Linked DNA regions of Homo sapiens: region 1 is linked to region 2. A link means that fine-mapping ties the variant in region 2 to the expression of a gene that starts in the linked region. Tissue or cell type: non-classical monocytes. Region 2 holds a variant in brackets; the other region holds the start of a gene. All regions are shown on one strand. Distances are from middle to middle.

The links. PIP is the estimated chance that this variant, and not a neighbour inherited with it, causes the effect.
Region 1: HHAT starts here. The variant in region 2 is fine-mapped to the expression of HHAT in non-classical monocytes (Schmiedel 2018, PIP 0.95).

Annotation. Positions count from the first base shown.
Region 1 is chr1:210,327,224-210,329,978 of GRCh38, forward strand. It overlaps HHAT (hedgehog acyltransferase), which reads left to right and starts at 1,679. Exons shown (of 12, transcript NM_018194.6): 1 at 1,679-1,881. RefSeq lists enhancers at 852-1,021, 1,896-2,255 and a silencer at 1,486-1,735.
Region 2 is chr1:210,369,447-210,372,201 of GRCh38, forward strand. The region is part of intron 3 of HHAT (hedgehog acyltransferase); the gene reads left to right. Among named protein-coding and RNA genes, the nearest start is that of HHAT, 42 kb to the left of the region's middle. The variant A/ATTT (reference allele first, on the strand shown) is at 1,164.

The DNA.
Region 1 (2,755 bases), 42 kb before region 2:
AGTTGACAGATAAAATACCCAGTTAAGTTTGATTTTCAGATACCCAGGATGTAAATTTGAATTTCAGATATACCATTTTTTTTTTTTTTTTTTGGTAGAGATGGAGTTTCATCATGTTGGCCAGGCTGGTCTCGAACTCCTGGATTCAAGTTATCTACTCACCTCGACCTCCCAAAGTGCTGGGATTACAAGCTTCCTGTAAGTACTTAAAAAAAATAAGTATATCCCAAATATTGCATGGGTCATAGTGATACTAAAAAGTTACATATTGTTCACCTGAAATTATTTACTTATTTTTTTGAGACAGAGTCCGGCTCAGTCACCCAGGTTGGAGTGCAGTGGTGCGATCTGAGCTCACTGCAACCTCTGCCGCCCGGGTTCAAGCGATTCTCGTGCCTCAGCCTCCCAAGTGGCTGGGATTACAGGTGCAGGCCACCACACCCGGCTAATTTTTGTATTTTTAGTAGAGACGGGGTCTCACCATGTTGGCCAGGCTGGTCTCAAACTCCTGGCCTCAAGTGATCCTCCTGCTACCGCTCCTAAAGTGCTGAGATTACAGGCGTGGGCCACCGCGCCCAGCCTGAAATTCAATTTTAATTGAGTATGCTGTATTTTTATTTGCTAAATCTGGCACTCCTATTTGGGGCTAGTTTACTAACACCTGCTTACTGAACACCATCCAGTACCAGGTTTTGGGGTGAGTGGGTTGGGGGGAAGCAGAAAGAAAAGATAGCTCCAGCTCTTGGAGAGTTCATACTCTGGTTTCCTGGAGAATTCTAAAATCATTAAAATAATCCTCTCGACCATTACAATGACTGCTAGATGAAATTTCTGAGAGCACAGCTTCCGAGTTTCCCTGCTGCCTAGGGCAGAGTTATCCACCTTCACCTTATCATAGAACCACCTGAGACGCCCCTGCCATGGACAGTCTGATGCTTTTGGTTTGGGGAGGGATCCAGAAGCCCGAGGTTTTAATGAGAGCCACGTGATTCTGCTGAGATAAGTCTGGAGAACTCTGGCAAGCCTGTCTCTTGGCTCAGGCTTGGAGGCCTCCGAGCAGCAACATCGTCCCAATTATACCCCGTTGGAGCATCTTCAGATCTTCCACTCTTTTCACAACGCAATCAAAATCTTCGTACCCATTTTGCAGTAGTGATCTCTGTAAGTTGCTTTACAATTCATAAAGTTTATTCTATTTGATCTTCACTCTAATTTACAAAGAAAAGCAGGGAAGTCTATTTCTGTTTTACAGAGGTGTACAGGGAGGCTCACAGGGGCTAAGTTCACACAGTAAGCCCTCGAAGCTGCCAGGGCTGCAAAGCCCACCCTCTTTCCACCGCACCGAACTACCTCCTTTCGCCTACAAAACGTAGGTGGGGACCACTGGTGTTGGAATGACGGCCCACCTCGAGTTTCAGGTGACTTCCACTCTGCAATTAACTTGCAGGCAGCCCCAGACCTGCAATGAACACACGGGTGGGGGAGAGATATGCACGCCAGGGTCAGTGGGAACCAACAGCCGAGGGGTGAGCGGGGCTAGGGGCCCCGGGCCGCCGGCGGGGCAAACGCGGTTCAGAAACGCAGGCCGCGCTCTGGCCCGCCCCCTGCAGCAGCACGGCCTGCTCGCCATCGCCCGGAGAGCGCCGCGGGTTCCCGAGTCCGGGCGCGGAGGGCGCGCGGGCACGGCGGCAGGGGCGTGCTCGGAGGACGCGCGCTGCGCTGCTCCTCCAAAGGGCAGCTCCGGGGGAAAGAGGGTGGCGTCCCGGGGAAGCCCGCAGCCGCCGCCGATGTCGCTGGGACTCGGAAGTGCCGAAAGAGGGGTGTTGGGAACTCGCGGCGCGCGTGAACGTTGCCGTCGCCGCCGCCCGGGACAGCCCGGAGGTTGGTAACTGGTGACCATAGGGGGTCCTGGGGAGGTTAGATGCTGAATTTTCTGCGTCAGTTTACTCTGTTAAAAAAAAAATGCACAAAACGCTTTCCGTTTCCTACCCAAGTTCCCGTGTGCGCGCCCGAGGGCGGGACAGAGGAAGTTCCCGGTCGGGCGAAGAAGACAAAAGCGGCGGGGGCCGCGCGCGCAGTGCGCCCGGGCAAAGGCGGGGATCTAGGCGCCGGGACAAGTCCGCGCACGGCCCTGCCCACGTCCTCTCTCCTTGGCTTCGTCCCCAGCTTCCGGAACTGCTGCGGGGAGTTGCGAACTCTGGTCCTCTTGGCAGTATCGGCGGTGCGCCTGCCTGCCTGCTGTGACTCCAGGGACTCTAAAGTTAGAGACTTCCTTTGCGTTCTATCTTCAGGACTCAGTTTTCTTCCTCTGTTCTGAGTCTAACCTTCAGGTGGCAGGTCTTTATGCGGAAAAACCCTCCCGCTAATCCTCACCAGAGGTACTTTACGGGTAGCATTGGTGTTAAGAAATGTGCTGCTACCTGTGTACATTGCTCTTGGATCAGGGTTGTAGGGCTAGGGCATTTGGCATCCTCAGAGGTTTGCATTACGTGGGAGTGAGACATTGCTTCTCTTTCTGTTTTTGTTGTTGTTTGTGTTTTTGAGGCGGAGTTTCGCTCTGGTCGCCCAGGCTGGAGTGCAATGGCACAATCTCAGCTCACTGCAACCTCAGCATCCCGGTTTCAAGCGATTCTCCAGCCTTGCCTCCTGAGTAGCTGGGATTACAGGCATGCGCCACCACGCCCACCTAATTTTGTATTTTTAGTAGAGACGAGGGTCTCACCGTGTTGGCCAGGCTGGTCTCGAATTCCTGACC
Region 2 (2,755 bases):
GCTACTCATGCTTTGCCCATGAAGATTTTTAAGATTTGGCTTATTTATAAATGCCTCTGCATTTTAATACTTCAGGAAAACAACATTCCATTTTGACTCATTTAACACATGAGTTAAATGCACACCTGCTGTGTAAGCAGCTTCCAGGCCACGTGCCAGGGATGCTGTGACATTCCAGGCTCAGTCTCTGTCCTAAGTGGGCTCTGAAGTTTGGGGGAAGGTGATGATGTGACAGTGAGCTGGTGGTGCAACAGCCACTGGGGCTTGTAGAGACAGAGGGTGCAGAGAACCCCAGCGGCAGGGACTGAAGGGAGGTGATGGCTGGGAGACGGGAAAGGTAGGTGAAGGGTATAGCATGCCTGACGACCTGGATTTGAGTGAAATAAATTTGGCTTGGCTAGAAGGTTGAGTTGTGAGGAGGGCAAATGACTCAAGACAGGGAGGGGATAGATCGTAAAGGCCATGAAGTGCCATATGCGGAGTCTGGACTTTATCCAGAAGGCAGTGGTCAGTCATTGAAGGGTTTCAGGTGCCATTTGTTCTGTGGACTCTTTCTGGAGCCCTCTGACTGATTTTCCTGCCTTGCCCTGTCTCTCTCTTCTTTCTCTTCTCTCTCTGCATACACATATACACACACACACTCTTGATCTGTTAGTTTTGCAGAGCTAAACCCTTGATTCTACCTTCACCTTATTTTCTCCTAGCTTCTTCAATGACTTTTTTTTTTTTTTTTTTTTTTTTTTCCTGAATGCAGAGTCTCACTGTGTCACCCAGGCTGGAGTGCAGTGCATGATCTTGGCTCACTGCAACCTCTGCCTCCTGGGTTCAAGCGATTCTCCTGCCTCAGCCTCCCAAGTACCTGGGATTACAGGTGCCCATCACCATGCCTGGCTAATTTTTGTATTTTTAGTAGAGATGGAGTTTCACTATGTTGGCCAGGCTGGTCTTGAACTCCTGACCTCATGATCCACCCATCTTGGCCTCTCAAATTGCTGGGATTACAGGTGTGAGCCACTGCATCTGGCCTTTAAGGACCTTTTTAATGAAACAAATAATATTTCCCATGAACTACTAGATAGAAGAGAGAGAGAACAGAGCAGGGTACCTGGTGGCTAAAAATTAATAAGCAAATTTGATGTTTATCCATTCACATTGCAGATGCT[A/ATTT]TTTTTTTTTTTTTTTTTTTTTGGAGACGGAGTCTCACTCTGTCACCCAGGCTGGAGTGCAGTGACATGATCTTGGCTCACTGCAACCTCCGCCTCCCGGGTTCAAGCGATTCTCTTGCCTCAGCCTCCCGAGTAGCTGGGACTACAGGCATGTGCCACCATGCCCAGCTAAGTTTTTGTATTTGTAGTAGAGACGGGGTTTCACCGCATTAGTTAGGATGGTCTTGATCTCCTGACCTCGTGATCCACCAGCCTTGGCCTCCCAAAGTGCTGGGATTACAGGCATGAACCACCACACCTGGCTGCAGATCCTATTTTTACGTTAGGCAGAGAGCTACAATTCCTATTCCTGTTCTCACCAGGAAATCACTAACATCTTACATTTTTCCTACCTGTCCGCAAATTTACATGTCAGGAAGAAAATCTAGCATGGATGAGACTAGACAAAAGGTCATGTACTGATGGGTAAAGAGCCGGCATTCTTTGTGTTCACAAGAAGGAAGCAAACCTGACCTTCCATCACCAATCATGGGTTTCTTTTTTTTCTTATTTATTTTTTTGAGACAGAGTCTCACTCTATTGCCTGTGTTAGAGTGCAGTGGCACAACCATGGTTCACTGTAACCTCTGCCTCCCAAGTTCAAGCGATTCTCGTGCCTCAGCCTCCCAAGCAGGGCCTACAGGCATGTGCCATCATACTTGGCTAACTTTTTGTATTTTTAGTAGAGACAGGTTTTCAACATGCTGGCTAGGCTGGCCTCAAACTCCTGTCCTCAAGTGATCCACCTGCCTTGGCCTCCCAAAGTGCTGGGATTACAGGTGTGAGCCACCCTGCCTGGCCTAATCCATGGGTTTCTTGCCCCTGACATTTTGGAGACTCTTCAACCCACATTCTTTGGAGGGGCTGGCATGGAACACAGGAATCTGTCTCTGCTAAGCAAGCCTCTCTGGGAAGGGGAAAAACTGTATAAAATCCAGTTTTCTGGTAAGACAGGCTGAACATTCACGCACACAGCCAAATCACTTATTAATCTGCTCCCATCAGATGGAGGGAAGCAGAGAGATGACAGACATGCTGGAATAATCTTTGAGGGGCTGCGGCTTAATGAAAATGAGTTAAGGCCTAACCTCTGTAAACTCACCAGAGTTTACACACATGAAACAAAGCAAACGTTGCCAAGAGATCAATGTTCCTTTATAAGAAGTCCCCAACCCCAGTGGGCATATTCACCTCAATTCAGCAAACATTATCAAGAGTCTACTAATGTTTGAGGGAGTTCGATGCAAAGATGAAGACATTCCCACTGTTGAGAATGGTGAGAAATTTCTCAGTCACAAACCAGTCAGCTTACAAGTCAGTGCTTACTGCCTGCTTTCTGATCTGGGTTGTGATAATGCTGTGGGTTAAGGAATTAAGAGGCATTATTTCTCTACTCAACAAGTTTATACTCTATTTGAGAATTCCAGGAGGACACCCCTAGCTTTAATATGGCTGATGTGTGAAGTATTTAACAAGGGCCAGAGCTGTACACAGCCAGGACAATTGGCCCTGCTCGTGGGTCCTGCCTGAAAGCTGGCCCTGGCATGCCATTT